4 linked regions of the Homo sapiens genome follow. The protein of the gene in region 2 purifies or fractionates together with the protein of the main gene of each other region. This does not show direct contact. Each region holds a gene or a part of one and is shown on either strand. Other genes may lie near its edges.

Evidence for each region.
Region 1: the proteins of SMARCAD1 (region 2) and ZNF627 purify together in Homo sapiens (co-immunoprecipitation; one large-scale study listed by IntAct). This does not show direct contact.
Region 3: the proteins of SMARCAD1 (region 2) and ZNF45 purify together in Homo sapiens (co-immunoprecipitation; one large-scale study listed by IntAct). This does not show direct contact.
Region 4: the proteins of SMARCAD1 (region 2) and ZNF829 purify together in Homo sapiens (affinity purification with mass spectrometry, with the first as the bait; one study listed by BioGRID). This does not show direct contact.

The regions. Positions count from the first base shown.
Region 1 is NC_000019.10:11,613,435-11,617,071, reverse strand, and holds part of ZNF627 (zinc finger protein 627), read right to left. Parts: intron 2,546-3,637; coding exon 2,419-2,545; intron 2,246-2,418; coding exon 2,185-2,245; intron 378-2,184; coding exon 1-377. UniProt on the Homo sapiens protein: May be involved in transcriptional regulation.
Region 2 is NC_000004.12:94,276,346-94,281,943, forward strand, and holds part of SMARCAD1 (SWI/SNF-related matrix-associated actin-dependent regulator of chromatin subfamily A containing DEAD/H box 1), read left to right. Parts: coding exon 1-129; intron 130-676; coding exon 677-814; intron 815-2,076; coding exon 2,077-2,172; intron 2,173-2,270; coding exon 2,271-2,388; exon of another isoform or gene 2,389-2,577; coding exon of another isoform or gene 2,578-2,583; coding exon 2,584-2,705; intron 2,706-4,246; coding exon 4,247-4,435; intron 4,436-5,126; coding exon 5,127-5,245; intron 5,246-5,598. UniProt on the Homo sapiens protein: DNA helicase that possesses intrinsic ATP-dependent nucleosome-remodeling activity and is both required for DNA repair and heterochromatin organization.
Region 3 is NC_000019.10:43,912,124-43,916,251, reverse strand, and holds the end of ZNF45 (zinc finger protein 45), read left to right. Parts: intron 1-1,051; coding exon 1,052-2,865; 3' UTR 2,866-3,628; downstream 3,629-4,128. UniProt on the Homo sapiens protein: May be involved in transcriptional regulation.
Region 4 is NC_000019.10:36,887,624-36,891,005, reverse strand, and holds the end of ZNF829 (zinc finger protein 829), read left to right. Parts: 3' UTR 1-2,882; downstream 2,883-3,382. UniProt on the Homo sapiens protein: May be involved in transcriptional regulation.

The sequences.
Region 1 (3,637 bases), on a different chromosome or scaffold from region 2:
TATGCGTTAACATGTGTCTTCGAATGCTTACAAGAGAAATAAAGGTTTCTCCACATTCCTTACAATCATAGGGCTTTCCTCCAGGATGAGTCCTTTCACGTACTGGAAAAGAGCGATGATAACTCAAGGCTCGTCCACACTGGTTACGTGTATATGACTTCTTTCCATATTCCTGATATTCATTTGGTTCACGTCCAGTGTGATCTCTGATGTGCCTATTAAGTGATGAAGGACCCATGCCAACTTCTCCACACACACTGCTTTCACACGGTTTTACTCCAGGAGTTTTCTTGTTCAGAATACCATCTGGAATCTGGCTGAAGGTTTCTTCACCTTGACCACCTTCTTTACTTTCACAGAGTCTCTCTGGAATATGACTTGTCAGAAAAATGAGAAGTACATTATTAATGTTTTGTTTATAAATGATTTTATATTTATTAATAGGTATTAGACTTACATATACTTGTTTTTAAATACAGAGACAGAATCTTACTATGTTGCCCAGGCGTGAACCCTGAACTCCAAGGCTCAAGGGATCCTCTCACCTCTGCCTCCCAAAGTGCTGGGATTACAGGCGTGAGCCACCATGCCTGGCCTTGGATTCACATGTTTAACATTACCAGGGAAAGTGTACGTTTTATGCCTGTCTCAACTGTTTGAACATGAGTGGACTAAATGGTCTGCAATAGGTCACAACCATACCTATTATCAAAAAATGATATTCATGGCCAGACGCAGTAGCTTATGCCTGTAATCCCGGCACTTTGGAAGGCCAAGACAGGAGGATCACCTGAGGTCAGGAGTTTAAGACCAGCTTGACCAACGTGGAGAAACCCTGTCTCTACTAAAAATAAAAAATAAAAAAAATTAGCCAGGCGCAGTGGAGCACGCGTGTAATCCCAGCTACTCGGGAGGCTGAGGCAGGAGAATTGCTTGAACCCAGGAGGCAGAGGTGCAGTGAGCCAAGATCATGCCATTGCACTTCAGCCTGGGCAACAAGAGCGAAACTCTGTCTCAAAAAAAAAAAAAAGAAAGAAAGAAAATGATATTCATGGCCAGGTGTGGTGGCTCACATCTGTAATCCCAGCACTTTCGGAGGCTGAGGCAGGTGGATCACCTGAGGTCAGGAGTTCAAGACCAGCCTGGCCAACATGGTGAAACCCTGTCTCTACTAAAAATACAAAAAATTAGCCAGGTGTGGTGGCAGGCGCCTGTAATCCCAGCTACTCGGGAGGCTCAGGCAGGAGAATCGCTTGAATCCAGGAGGCGGAGGTTGCAGTGAGCCAAGATGGCACCCTTGCACTCCAGCCTGGGCAACGAGTTGTGAAATTCCCTCTCAAAAAAAAAAAAAAAAAGATATTCGTATGAAGTTTCTTAATACTATCTATAATTGAACTATTTTGCAAACACTGAACATCTATGTTACACTTAACTATGTTTTTGGAGAAGATTTTCTTTTTTTCTTTTTTGAGACAGAGTCTCACTCTGTCACCCAGGCTGGAGTGCAGTGGTGCCATCTTGGCTCAAAGCAAGCTCTGCCTCCCAATTCACGCCGTTCTCCTGTCTCAGCCTCCCGAGTAGCTGGGATTACAGGCACCCACCACCACACCCAGCTAACTTTTTTTTTGTATTTTTAGTAGAGACGGAGTTTCACCGTGTTAGCCAGGATGGTCTCGATCTCCTGACCTCGTGATCTGCCCACCTCAGCCTCCCAAAGTGCTGGGATTACAGGCGTGAGTCACCATGCCTGGCTTGGAGAAGATTTTCTAAAAACAAAACAGTTTGAAGCTGGGCTTATATGTTGTTTGCTTGCTTTTAAAAATTCCTGCTGGGCATGGTGGCTCAGGCCTGTAATCCCAGCACTTTGGGAGGCTGAGGCAGGCAGATCACGAGGTCAAGAGAACAAGACCATCCTGGCCAACATGGTGAAACCCCGTCTCTACTAAAAATACAAAAAATTAGCTCGGCGTGGTGGCACGTGCCTGTAGTCCTAGCTACTCAGGAGGCTGAGGCAGGAGAATCACTTGAACCTGGGAGGCGGAGGTTGCAGTGAGCCAAGATTGTGCCACTGCACTCCAGCCTGGCGACAGAGCGAGACTTCATCTAAAAAAAAAAAAAAAAAAAATTCCTAACAATACGAAATGCTCTCAAGGAACAGAACTTTCTTTTGTGAGTGCAAATTACCTTATATTTCTCCTGGGAATTTTGAATGGGTCTTCAATGTTCTGGTCTTCCCATTGTTTTCCTAAAATTTAGACCCAGAAAAGTCATTATGAATTAGTATAAAATTATGAAAAAAGTATTAGATTCTATATTCATAATTCCCTGTACCCATGCCTGGTTTATTCCCCAAAGTGTTAAGGAGCTAGAAACACTTGTTCTCTAATTCACTGAGGAAAGGAATATTGTCACCCTTACCTACAGAAGCCAGGTTCCTGAAGGTTTCCCGCATCACATCCCTGTAGAGATTCTTCTGGGAAGGATCCAGCAAAGCCCACTCCTCCAGGGTGAAGTTCACAGCCACATCCTCAAAGGCCACTGAATCCTGAAACATCCCCCATGTGTGGAGGAGGAAGGTTGAGACAGACAGCACTGGGGGCCTAGACTTTATTCCCAAGAAGTTCTCAGGATGCTATGCTTTCCAAACATTTATTTCAAGATTCCACAGTCATCAAACTTACCCTCTGTCTAGACTCACTTCCTTCCACAAAGCAATTCTGCTGCTAGAACTGAACTAGCAACAGCAGAATAGGAGCATGCCTCTCTGGTGGGAGAAGTATGTACTGCCTGGGCCACCCCTAATGTCTCTCTGTAAGGTAGGCCTGTAGCACCTGTTGTAACAAACATGTAGTGGCTGGGCGCGGTGGCTCACGCCTGTAATCCCAACACTTTGGGAGGCCGAGGCGGGTGGATCACGAGGTCAAGAGATCGAGACCATCCTGGCTAACAAGGTGAAACCCCATCTCTACTAAAAATACAAAAATTAGCCAGGCACGGTGGTGGGTGCCCATAGTCCCAGCTACTCAGGAGGCTGAGGTAGAAGAATGGCGTGAACCCAGAAGGCGAAGCTTGCAGTGAGCTGAGATTGCACCACTGCACTCCAGACCGGGTGACAGGGCAAGACTCCGTCTCAAAAAAAAAAAAAAAAAAAAAAATCTAGTAACTAGAGTGCAGAAAAAAGAGTTAACATTAGCCACCCTGAGACTGTGTATCTTTAGAAATGCTTGTTCACAAAGTTTGAGCTTTGACAGTATCTGGGTACTGGATTTTAGACAGGATCCCACCAACCTAACTGATAAAAGAGTCATAACTTACTAGAACAGACTCCCATAGCAAAATCTCTGTGGGAAGCAGTACAGGGGTAGGAAAACCTAAATTGCAACTAATGAATTACTAAAGGCTAAGTGTAAAAATCTGGCTGGGCACGGTGGCTCACGCCTGTAATCCCAACACTTTGGGAGATGGAGGCAGGAGGATCACTTGAGCTCAGGAGTTCAAGACTGACCTGGAAAACATAGCGAGACCTCTTGTCTACTAAATATTTTTTTTAATTAGCTGTTTTTTAAAAAAAAAGAGGTAAAAATCCAGGGGATCCAGTCATAGGGGGCCCCCAGAAATGTGTGAGCTCTACCTCCAG
Region 2 (5,598 bases):
TGTGCGATCAGCAGTTCTGATGACCGTAGTCTGTTTCGACGGCTGAAACTTAATTACGCAATTTTTGATGAGGGCCATATGCTGAAGAATATGGGCTCCATTCGCTACCAGCACCTTATGACAATTAATGTAAGAGAATGTTTGTAAAGTTTTCCAAATTACTGTAAAATTTAGATTACGTAATTTAATATATGTAGTATTTATTAGCAGAATCTGTATTATGTAGTTTAATATATGTAGTATTCTGTGTTAGCAAGTTTTTTCTGTAAAAGGGAAGATAGTAAATATTTCACACTTTATGGACTAGATGGCCTCTGTCACGTATTCTTTGATTTTGTTTTTTAACAACCCTTTAAAAAATTATTAGGTCATAAGCCATAATTTACCTGTTCTATATGTTAAACTATTTATAAATAATCTTTCATCATCTCATAAAGGTGATACGAGGACACAAGTTACCTACTTATAAAAGAAGACCAATGGTTTTCGTATTCATTGCTGTTGATAATAGCGGACGTCAATTATTTAAATTACTATATCATTTATCACAGAATGTTAAATTATTAATAATGGTTTTAATTTATCTCTCCTCCCTTCACCTTTCACTGGGGAGGATAGACATGAAAGGAGTGGCTCTTTAAGAAAAAGCTAATATAAATTTTACCTTCATTCACAGGCAAATAACCGTTTGCTGCTCACAGGCACACCTGTACAGAACAATCTGTTAGAACTCATGTCGCTGTTGAATTTTGTTATGCCACACATGTTTAGTAGTAGCACCAGTGAAATACGAAGAATGTTTTCCTCTAAGACAGTAAGCATAAATGCATATTTTCTCCCAAATATGTTATTTGTGTTTTATCTGGGCCATTCTTCTGTTAGGTCTCTTTTGTTGTTTTCATAGTGCATATGCTCTATGAAGTAACTTTAAGTAGGTGATAACTCTATATTTGGATTGGTTTGGAAACCAGCCAAAATATAATGGGAAAGAAAATAGCAATTTCCCTAATCAATGGCCAGAAGTCTTGGTTAATATCCTAATTTTCTGAAGGATGACGATTTTAAATTGATGAAGAGCTCAGATATATAGTATGTGCGGAAAGTTTGATCATTACATCATCTGTATCAAAATTGGCTACGTAAATTAGTAACATTTCTTTATGGGTAAACTATAAAACTAGACAAAGCTAGAATATCCAGAAAATGCCTATGCTGAGAAATATATTCTGAAATAAAAGTTCATAAAACCAAAGTCACAACTAAAAGCGACAGTAAAGAAATCCTCTTCACAAGAAAAGTTTTGTTACTTCTTTATTGTTTAGGAAAAGTATAGTCTTCAAGAACTCCCAGTTTTTTCAATACCGCAGTGTTTACACTGATTCTTGGCTCTCTTCCACATCACTAATCTTTTGCAAGAATTTTCTGTGATACTCGTCCACTGCAAATTAACTGCCTTTTAAACATTTACTAATTTGAATTCCCTCCCACTTAATGTACAGTGTTTTAAATGGCCTAGCAGATTTTATGAACCATTTTCTATCTTCAGTTCATAATATATGGAGGACTCCTTCACATCCTAGAATAAAATTCTACTTCTTAATTCTCCAGAGTCACCAGTTCTGACTAAGCACTATTCCCCATTTTTAGACCAAGTGATTTGCATCAGTCTGCACTAGCTTCCTTTTGGGGCCATTTTCCACAAAGAAATAAAGGATTTTCTACCCCCCACGCTCCTCCTTACCCACACTTAGACACATTTTTCAATGAGAGTTATCTAGGTAATCGATACATGACTCATCAGTTGATGACTTCTGAACACCCATCTGGTACAGTTCAAATTGATTACTTCAGTAGAGAACATGATTACGTATCATAAAACTTCAAAATACATATGGAGCTTCAAGAAGTACATGGCAGCCCAGAATTCAGATGTGAAGTGCCATCTAGAATGAATCAAGTTTCTGCAGAAAATAACTCAGACTCTAATGAGGGAGATTTTTATGTTGTGTAATAATACTGTTATTGCAATAATTTAAGTGAATAATTCCTAAAAGGATATGTTTTTATTTTGCTCAGAAATCAGCAGATGAGCAAAGCATATATGAAAAGGAGAGAATAGCACATGCAAAACAAATTATAAAGCCATTTATTCTCAGAAGAGTAAAAGAAGAGGTAATGCATATCTACATGTTTTTTATTTTTATTGTTTTTAAAACTTAGGTTTTTCTCTTTACTAGAATGATTATCTTAAACTGTTTTTTCTGTCTCAGGTTCTCAAGCAGTTACCCCCCAAGAAAGATCGAATTGAGTTGTGTGCAATGTCGGAGAAGCAGGAGCAACTCTATTTGGGTCTTTTCAACAGATTGAAAAAATCTATCAATAACTTGGGTATAATCTGATTTTTACTCTTTTATGTGAAAAAGAATCTTGTACTGGGGATGCATTTTGTTTAGTCATATAATGGGATTTGTGCATTTTAAAAAATTATCTGGAATTTGAGGAAATAATTTTAAAACTTAGTTGATATATTTCAACAGTTATCCGCTTGGTTTTATTTTTTACTGTGTTCTCTTTGAGTCACAGAAAAAAACACAGAAATGTGCAATGTCATGATGCAGTTGAGGAAAATGGCCAATCATCCTTTATTACATCGCCAATATTACACAGCTGAAAAACTCAAGGAAATGTCTCAGCTTATGCTAAAGGTAAGGATTTCATATTATGTTAACACTAAGCTTTAATAAGAGGTTAAGTTGTTAGGCTATAAGATTGGTGAACCCAATGGGCATACTAAACCTTTAACTACATATTTAAGAAAAACTTTTTTTTTTCAGACCAGGTCTGGTTCTGTTGCCAAGGCAGGCAGTCTGGGCTCACTGCAACTTCTGCCTCCTAGGCTTAAGCCATCCTCCTGCGTTGGCCTGCTGAATAGCTGGGACTACAGGCACGCACCACCATGCCCGGCTAATTTTTTTGTACGGATGGGGTTTTGCCATGTTGCCCAGGCTGGTCTTGAACTCCTGAGCTCAAGCGATTCGCCCGCCTTGGCCTCCCAAAGTGCTGGAATTACAGGCATCAGTCACTGCACTGAAACACGAAAAACACATTTTAGACTAAGTTCAAAATGATCTGGGGGACATAAAAACAAAGAAGGACTGATAACCTACATTATAAGTCAGCAAACTATGGCCTTACGGCAGTGACTATTTTTATAAATAAGGTTTTACTATAACACAGTCATGCCTGTTTTTGTTTTCTGGGACTGCTTTCTCACTACAGGGGCAGAGTTGAGTACTTGCCTTACAGGTCATTTTGCCTACAAAGCCTAAAATATGATCTGGCCCTTTACAGGAACAGTTTGCTAACTCCTAGTCTAGACTTCCATAATGCACTTCTTTTTCATTTTATTTCTTTATAATTTTAGCAATTACTCTTTATTTTTGCCTCTTTCTCCTTTAACATTTTAACCTTATTTATCCTTACTGATCTTTGGTTGAAAGCAACCCATTTTCTTCCTTTTCTTTACTTTTTTTTTTGAGATAGACTTTTGCTCTTGTCGCCCAGGCTGGAGTGCGATGGCATGATCTCTGCTCACTGCACCCTCCGCCTCCCAGGTTCAAGTGATTGTCCTGCCTCAGCATCCTGAGTAGCTGGGATTACAGGCACCTACCACTACGCCCAGCTAATTTTTGTATTTTTAGTAGAGATGGGGTTTCACCACGTTGGCCAGGCTGGTCTCGAACTCCTGACCTTAGGTGATTTACCCACCTCGGCTTCCCAAAGTGCTGGGATTATAGGCGTGAGCCACTGCACCTGACCAACCCATTTCTTTTTAAATTTTTTTTTATTATTTTAAACTTATGGAGAATTTCAAACATTTATAAAAGTAGAATTGCATAATGAAACTGCCCATATGTTACTTCACCCCTTTGAAAGTTACCATTTGATAATAACACCACCCTTGTTTCATCTATACCCCAGACTTCTCCCCAGGGTTATTTTGAACCAAGTTCTAGATGTTATTTCATCTGTAAATATTTTAGTATGTTATCTCTCAAACAGTAAGGACTTCTCCCCCTTTATTATACCTAAAAGATTAATACTAATTTTCCTTGATAAGTCTGTTACACTAAAAGGTTCTATGATTTAGATATTTTATCAGGTATAAACAGTTTTATTAAACTTTTCTCATCATATTATTAATTATTTTTATTTTGAAGTATACTGTGTTTTGTTTTGTTTTAAGGAACCTACACATTGTGAGGCTAACCCTGACCTGATCTTTGAAGATATGGAAGTTATGACAGACTTCGAACTACATGTACTTTGTAAACAGTACCGACACATTAATAACTTTCAGTTAGACATGGACTTGATTTTAGATTCTGGAAAATTTCGAGTTTTAGGATGCATCTTGTCTGAATTGAAACAGAAGGTATTAAAAAAGAATGGCGTTTCTTTTGTATTTTCTCAATTACTTTAACTTCTTAAAGCAATTCTGGCACACTGACTTGCTTGAATTAGCCTATGTCTGTTCTGCATTCTTCCAGAACTTAGTGTTTTGAACATTTTCTTGACGTATTTTCTTGATTACCTCCTTTCCTCTGTTGAACCTCAGACAAAAACAATAGAAAGTTAGTAGACTGTATCTGTATTGATGTTTTAAAAAAATCTTAATTGTCATTATTTCATAGGTGACAATCTGTATGTGTGCTTCAAAATTAGTTTTTAAAGACACTATTTGTTAGTTATTTAAGTAATGCTGCCGTTTATGTGTGAAATAGCCTAAATTTGTAAAATCACAGTCCAGATAATACATACATAAGCAGTTGTCCACATTTTCCGACGTTTTTCTTATGAAAAGGAAGTAATTTAACTGTTCTTAAAATCAAAACTGAGAGCTAGCTTTTAGCCCTGAAGTTAAGGCAGTTTATTCATATATAGGCTGCAATAAGACATACGTCTTCGGTATTACTGATTTGTATTAAAGAAGCAGTTTATCACAGAGAATTTTCTGCAAATTTATCAACATGATATAAGTAACACTTCTAACTGTTTAAACCTGTCAAGGCTTTGAGTAGTAAAACGATTTTTTCTATTTCTAATTCATGTATGTATTTTCACAGGGTGATAGAGTTGTGTTATTTAGCCAATTTACCATGATGCTGGATATCTTAGAGGTTCTATTAAAACATCATCAGCATAGGTACCTCAGATTAGATGGAAAGACTCAGATTTCTGAAAGGTTGGTATAATTCATGTTAGTTACAAAAAAATAACTCATTTATTATTATTGTTAGGATTTTAATTGTCTAACAAACAATTGATAGTATTTTGTTGTTTTTATGTTTGATTACTTCAAATCATTACCTTAAAATAAGAGTAATTTCAATGGTCAGGCATGGTGGCTCACGCCTGTAATCCCAACACTTTGGGAGGCTGATGCGGGCGGATTGGTTGGGCTCAGGAGTTCAAGACTACCCTGGACAACATGACAAAACCCTGTCTCTACTAAAAACACCAATAGCAACAACAACAACAACAAAAATAGCCAGGTGTGGTGGTGCACGCCTGTGGTCCCAACTAGGGAGGCTGAGG
Region 3 (4,128 bases), on a different chromosome or scaffold from region 2:
TCCCAGCAGCTTGGGGGGATAAGGCAGGAGAATCACTTGAGTCAGGAGGTTGAGGCTGCAGCAAGCCATGTTTGTGCCACTGCATTCCAGCCTGGGTGACAGAGTGAGACTCTGTCTCAAAAAAACAAAAAGAAGGCCAGGTGCCGGTGGCTCGCACCTGTAATCCCAGCACTTTGGGAGGCCGAGGCAGGTGGATCACGAGGTCAGGAGATTGAGACCAGCCTGACCGACATGGTGAAACCCCCCTGGTGGTTATGGAAACTTTAATTGCTATCAGGTTTTAGAATAATGTGTGTTATTACCATAAACCTCTTCTCCCAGGTGTTCTCATGGAGGCTATTTCCTAGCAAGAGGTAAAGGACCACTATCTGTTTACACTCGAACTTTAGGTATGTAGGTCAGTGATCCCCAATCTTGGCACCAGGGACTGGTTTGTTGGAAGATGGTTTTTCCACAGACTGGGGTCGGGGGGATGGTTTTGAAATGAAACTGTTCTACCTCAGATCATCAGACCTCAGTTAGATTCTCATAAGATTAGATTCTCACGCAACCTAGATCCCTCGCACGCGCAGTTCACGATAGGATTCGCACTCCTATAAGAATCTAATGTCACCATTGATGTGACAGGAGGCAGAGCTCAGGCAGTAATGCCCACTGGCCTCCCGCTCACCTCCTGCTGTGTGGCCCAGATCCTAACAGGCCACGGACTGGTACTGATCCACGGCCCAGGGGTTGGGGGCCCTGACTTAGGTGATAAGGTATTTTCTGAAAAATGTGTCTTTCTAACTAGCACAGTGCCTCAACATCTCCCAACCTTGGAATAAACTTCCAATGAAATAATCCCAGGCAAAGGTTTTTGAAAATTTATGTGTAGGAGTTTTACTAGACATTTTGAACAGGGCCACTTTGTTCAGATGTCTATGCAGTAGGCAATGGAACCTTCTCCTGGTTCAATGAAGCCTTAGGCTATGGGCCCGAGTTTATAAACTTGACATCTTGGAACAAAACATTATTCACATGCCCCATCTCCACATTTTCTTTATCCTTTTAGGAGCCAAGAATCTAAAAGAGATGGAGACTCTTCAAGAAGTAGGATTAAGGTACCTGCCTCATGAAGAGCTTTTCTGCTCCCAGATCTGGCAACAGATTACAAGAGAGTTAATCAAGTATCAAGATTCTGTGGTAAATATTCAAAGAACAGGCTGCCAGTTGGAAAAACGAGATGATTTGCACTATAAAGATGAGGGATTCAGTAATCAGAGTTCCCATCTTCAAGTTCACAGAGTCCACACTGGTGAAAAACCCTACAAAGGAGAACATTGTGTGAAAAGTTTCAGCTGGAGCTCTCATCTTCAAATTAACCAAAGGGCTCATGCAGGAGAGAAGCCCTACAAATGTGAAAAATGTGATAATGCCTTCCGTCGGTTTTCAAGTCTTCAAGCCCATCAGAGAGTCCACAGTAGAGCAAAATCATACACAAATGATGCAAGTTACAGGAGTTTTAGTCAGAGGTCACATCTTCCCCATCATCAGAGAGTTCCCACTGGAGAGAATCCATACAAATATGAAGAGTGTGGGAGGAATGTTGGGAAAAGCTCACATTGTCAAGCTCCTCTGATAGTTCATACGGGAGAGAAACCCTATAAATGTGAGGAGTGTGGGGTGGGCTTCAGTCAGAGATCATATCTTCAAGTTCATCTGAAAGTTCACACTGGAAAGAAACCATATAAGTGTGAAGAGTGTGGGAAGAGCTTCAGTTGGCGTTCACGACTGCAGGCTCATGAGCGAATCCACACTGGCGAGAAACCATACAAATGCAATGCATGTGGCAAGAGCTTTAGTTACAGCTCACACCTTAATATTCATTGTAGAATCCACACAGGAGAGAAACCCTATAAGTGTGAGGAGTGTGGGAAAGGTTTCAGTGTGGGTTCACACCTTCAGGCCCATCAGATAAGCCACACTGGAGAGAAGCCATACAAATGTGAGGAGTGTGGGAAAGGCTTCTGCCGGGCCTCAAATCTGCTGGACCATCAAAGAGGCCATACTGGAGAGAAACCGTATCAGTGTGATGCATGTGGTAAGGGCTTCAGTCGTAGCTCAGATTTTAACATTCATTTTAGAGTCCATACAGGGGAAAAACCCTATAAATGTGAGGAGTGTGGCAAGGGCTTCAGCCAGGCCTCAAATCTTCTGGCCCATCAAAGAGGCCACACTGGAGAGAAACCCTACAAATGTGGTACATGTGGGAAGGGCTTCAGTCGGAGCTCAGATCTTAATGTACACTGTAGAATCCACACAGGAGAGAAACCCTATAAATGCGAGAGGTGTGGTAAGGCCTTCAGTCAGTTCTCCAGCCTTCAGGTGCATCAGAGAGTTCACACTGGAGAGAAACCATATCAGTGTGCAGAGTGTGGGAAGGGCTTCAGTGTAGGTTCACAGCTTCAAGCCCATCAGAGGTGCCACACTGGAGAGAAACCCTATCAATGTGAGGAGTGTGGGAAGGGCTTCTGTCGGGCCTCCAATTTTCTGGCACATCGTGGAGTCCACACAGGAGAAAAACCATACCGATGTGATGTGTGTGGTAAGCGCTTCAGACAGAGATCCTACCTTCAAGCCCACCAGAGGGTCCACACAGGAGAGAGACCATACAAATGTGAGGAATGTGGGAAAGTCTTCAGCTGGAGCTCATACCTTCAAGCCCATCAAAGAGTTCACACCGGAGAAAAACCATACAAATGTGAGGAGTGTGGGAAGGGCTTCAGTTGGAGCTCAAGTCTTATCATTCATCAGCGAGTCCATGCTGATGATGAGGGTGACAAGGACTTTCCTTCATCAGAGGATTCACACAGGAAAACTCGATAAAATATGTTTTACTATCTCAGATGGGTGCTGAAATATTTTAATAATCAGAGCTATCATAGACAAAACATTTGTTTTATAGAGTCAGTAGTTCAGCCAAGTGATTGGGAGACCACACAGCAGAGAAGCCTCACAAGAGTGGAGACATATGGACTGCATTCAGAACATTGACCATTAGCTGATACATGCAGACAAGAGGATCAGGAAGGATGAGTCTGATCTGGAGTAAATCAGAAGTACTAAGATAGAAATGCTGAATTCTGTTCCACTAGAATATAAGATCCAAGAGGGCAGGGACTTTGTTGACTGCCAAATCTACTCTGCCTTTTCAGTGCCTAATACGTTGTAATTTTTCAGTAGTATTTGAAATTACTGTCATATTTGAAATTCAGTAATATTTGACATTTTTATTTATCTCTAGAAGTTTCTCTAAAATTGTACTCAGAAGAATTCTGCAAGGCTTGGAGGATATATAAGTTAGTCATATGGCCTGATTTTCCCATTTTTGCAGATCTCGTGGACAAGTGTTTATCAAACTGAAGGTTGCAGCTTGTTAGTGGGTTCAGAAATCAGTTTCTGGCTAGCAACTAGAAGTTTTGTATGTTAACAGTACTTTATTGAGGTGTAATCTGCATGCAGTAACATGCACAAGTCTCAAGTTCATGGCTTTCTGAATTTTGACAAATGTAATCATCACCAAGATCAATGTATACAATATGTCTATTAAACCAAAAAGTTTTCTTGTGCCCATTTCCAGTCAATCCCACCTCCAGTGCCAAGTATTATGATTTCTATACCATAAATTAATTAGGTCTGTTCCTGAGCTTCCTATGGATTTAGTATGTACTCTTATATCTGGATTCTTATGATCAAATGTATGATCATCTCAGTAGATTCAGAGAAAACATTTGACAAAATTTAGCATCCACTCATGATGAAAAAATTCTTCAATGAGATAAAAGGCATCCATGAAAATCATATAAGCTAACATTCTTTTTTTAATTAGGGAATAATTTATATACAGTGAAACTGACTCTATCATGCATTTTGGCAAGTGCTGTTATGTGAACACCACCATCACAATCAAGATAGTCTATAGTTCTAGTACCCCCTGCCCTGAAACTTGCTTGTTCTGTTTAGTCAGCTCCTCTCCCCACCACCAGCCCTTGTCAACTGACTCATTTTCTGTCTGTATAGTTTATATCATTTCCAGAATGTCATATAAATGGAATTCTAGAGTATGTTTCCTTTGGAGTCGCACCTTTC
Region 4 (3,382 bases), on a different chromosome or scaffold from region 2:
ACCGGTACCAGGGGTTAGGACTTCAGCATATCTTTTTAGGGGATACAGTTCAACCCATAATACCCTGTTAGAATGATTTTGTCTAATATATTTGTAATTTCCTTTTATACATAAGTTGTTAGTCAAATTTATTTTATTTTATTTTATTTTGAGACAGAGTCTCGCTCTGTTGCCCAGGCTGGAGTGCAGTGGTGTGATCTCAGCTCACTGCAACCTCCAGCTCCTGAGTTCAAGCGATTCTTGTGCCTCAGCCTCTCAAGTAGTTGGGATTACAGGCATGCGCCACCATGCCCGGCTAATTTTTTTTTTTTTTTTTTTTGTATTTTTAGTAGCGACGGGGTTTCACCATGTTGGCCAGGCTGGTCTTGAACTCCTGACTTCAAGTGATCTGCCCGCCTCAGCCTCCCAAAGTGCTGGGATTACAGACGTGAGCCACCGTGATGGCCAAAACAGACTTTATACCAACAAAAATTAAAAAGGACAAAGAAGGTCATTTATAATGATAAAGGATAAATTCAACAAGAAGATAAAACAATCCTAAATATGTATGCACCCAACACTGCAACACCCAGATCCATAACACAGATACTACTAGACCTAAGAAAAGAGATAGACAGCAATACAACAATAGCAGGGGACTTCACCACTCCATTGACAGCACTAGACAGATCACTGGGACAGAAATCAACAAAGAAACTCTGGACTTAAATTGGACTCTACACCAAATGGACCCAACAGACATCTGAAGAACATTCTACCCAACAACCACAGAATATATACTCTTCTCTTCTGTGCATGGAACATTCTCAAAAATAGGTCATATACTGGACCACAAAGCAAGTATCAATAAATTTTAAAAAAACAAAATCATATCTAACATCTTCTCTGACCATAGTGGAATAAAACTAGATATCAATACCAAGAGGAACTCTCAAAACAGATACATGGAATTTAAACAGCTTGCTCCTGAATGATTTTTGGATCAATGATGAAACTAAGGTGGAAATTTAAAATTTTTTGAAATAAATGAAAATAGAGACAAAACACATGAAAACATCTGAGATACAGCAAAAGCAGTGCTAAGAGAGGATTTTATAGCATTAAATGCCTACACCAAAAAGATAGAAAAATCTCAAATGAATAGCCTAACGTCACATCTCAAGGAACTAGGAAAAAACAAAACAAACTCAACCCAAAGCTGGCAGAAGAAAAGCAATAACAAATATCAGAGCAGGCAAAAATGAGACTGAGAACAAAGGAATGCAAAAGATCAATAAAAGAAAAAGTTGGTTCTTTGCAAAGATAAAACTGACAGACCACTAGCTAGATTAACCAAGAAAAAAAGAAGATTCAAATAAATACAATCAGAAATGATAAGGTGATATTATAACTGATAACACAGACATATAAAATATCAGCAGAAACTATATGCACATATTAGAAAACCTAGAGGAAGTGGATAAATTCCTAGAAACACATAACCTTCCAAGATTGAACCAGGGAGAAATAGGAATCCTCAACAGACTACTGAGTATTGAAATTGAATCAGTAATAGAAAAAAATCTTGCAAAAACAAAAAGCCCAGGACCAGACAGATTCACAGCTGAATTCTACTAGACATGCAAGGAAGAACTAGTAACAGCACTATTGAAACTATTCCAAAAATTATAGGAGGGAATCCTCCCTAACTCATTCTACAAAGCCAGTATCATCCTGATACTGAAGCCAGGCAAGGATAAAACACACAAAAAAACTACAAGCCAATATCCCTGATGAAAATAGACACAAAAATCTTCAGCAAAATACTAGCAAACCAAATCAAACAGTACATAAAAAAGATAGTAACAGCACAGTCAAGTGGATTTTATTCCTGGGGTGTAAGGATGGCTCAACATATGCAACTCAATACATGATTCATCACATACACAGAATTAAAAATAAGCCAGGCACTCACACCTGTAATCCCAGCACTTTGCAAGGCCAAGGCGGGCAGATCACATGATGTCAAGAGTTTGAGACCAGTCTGGCTGACATGGCGAAACCCTGTCTCTACTAAAAATAGAAAAATTGGCTGGGCATGGTGGCAGGCACTGTAGTCCCAGCTACTTGGGAGGCTGAGGCAGGAGAATTACTTGAACCTGAGAAGCGGAGGTTGCAGTGAGCTGAGATAGTGCCATTGCACTCCAGCCTGGGCAACAGAGCAAATTGCTTGAATGTGGGAGGTGGAGGTTGCAGTGAGCCGAGATTATGCCATTGCACTCCAGCCGGGGGAGCAACAAAGCCAGACTCCATCTCAAAAAAAAACCAAAAAAAATCCTATTTAGTACAAGGTACATTATTTAGGTAATGAGTCCATTAAAAGCCAACACTTTCCCCACTACACTATATGTGTATGTAACACAACTGCCCTTGTAACTTCCTAAACCTATAATTAAGAAACAATAAAAGGCAAATTAAGAATGCTTTTTTAAAAGGTGGGGGCATTATGCTAATAAGTTACTGTGGATTTCAGAGTGCAGAGTAGAAAGATCACAAGAATTTAGTGTGGTAGGTGGGAACAGAAAATGGGTGTATAAATTTTATTGACGTGGGAGTACTGGATATTGTAGAGACAGATATCATCAGGGCAAGGAGATTAAAGATTTTTGCATTGACGGTTTGACACTATATTGTGGTAATAACACTGTATGTGTTGGGAGATAGAACAGGAAACATCTTCCCTGGAATATGTATACTATTAAATGTTTTATCAAACTTTTGATCAAACAAGACAGCACAATTTATAATTTCATTTCTATTTCTATGTTATGAGAAACTGATCATTTATTCAAATGTTTAACAGGCATGTTCATGTTACTATAAACTCTTCTGTTTCACCATCACGTTGTTGGTCATCTTTACTGATTACAAATTTCTTTACATATTTAAGAAATATATATATTTCTTTATATATTAAGGTTAGTGTTTGTCATATGTTGTTTCAGTAACTTTTCCTAATCTTTTGGCCTCTTTGGTATTTTTTAATAAGCAGAAATCTTTTTCACATGTAGTAAAATTTACAGTTTTTCCTGTACACATAACTATTATTTTTTCTAGATTAATATTTCTGCAGATTTGGAGTCATCCAAGAATTTAAATTGTACCTCAGGCAAAATCATGAGAATGACTTTAGGATCACTGTTACTGGCTCTAGAGTTCAGGAGACCCAATAAGTAGAGTGTGCCATTAGATGGAGTAAAATGTTGAAGAGGACCAAAATGATTCTGAGTCTCGAATCTTGACTTTTAGCCTAGCATGTCAGGAAACAGTGGTCTGGGCTCTACGTGTGTTCCTTTTGTAAAACATGGATCTAATATCATAGATGTAAATGACTCCATGTAAT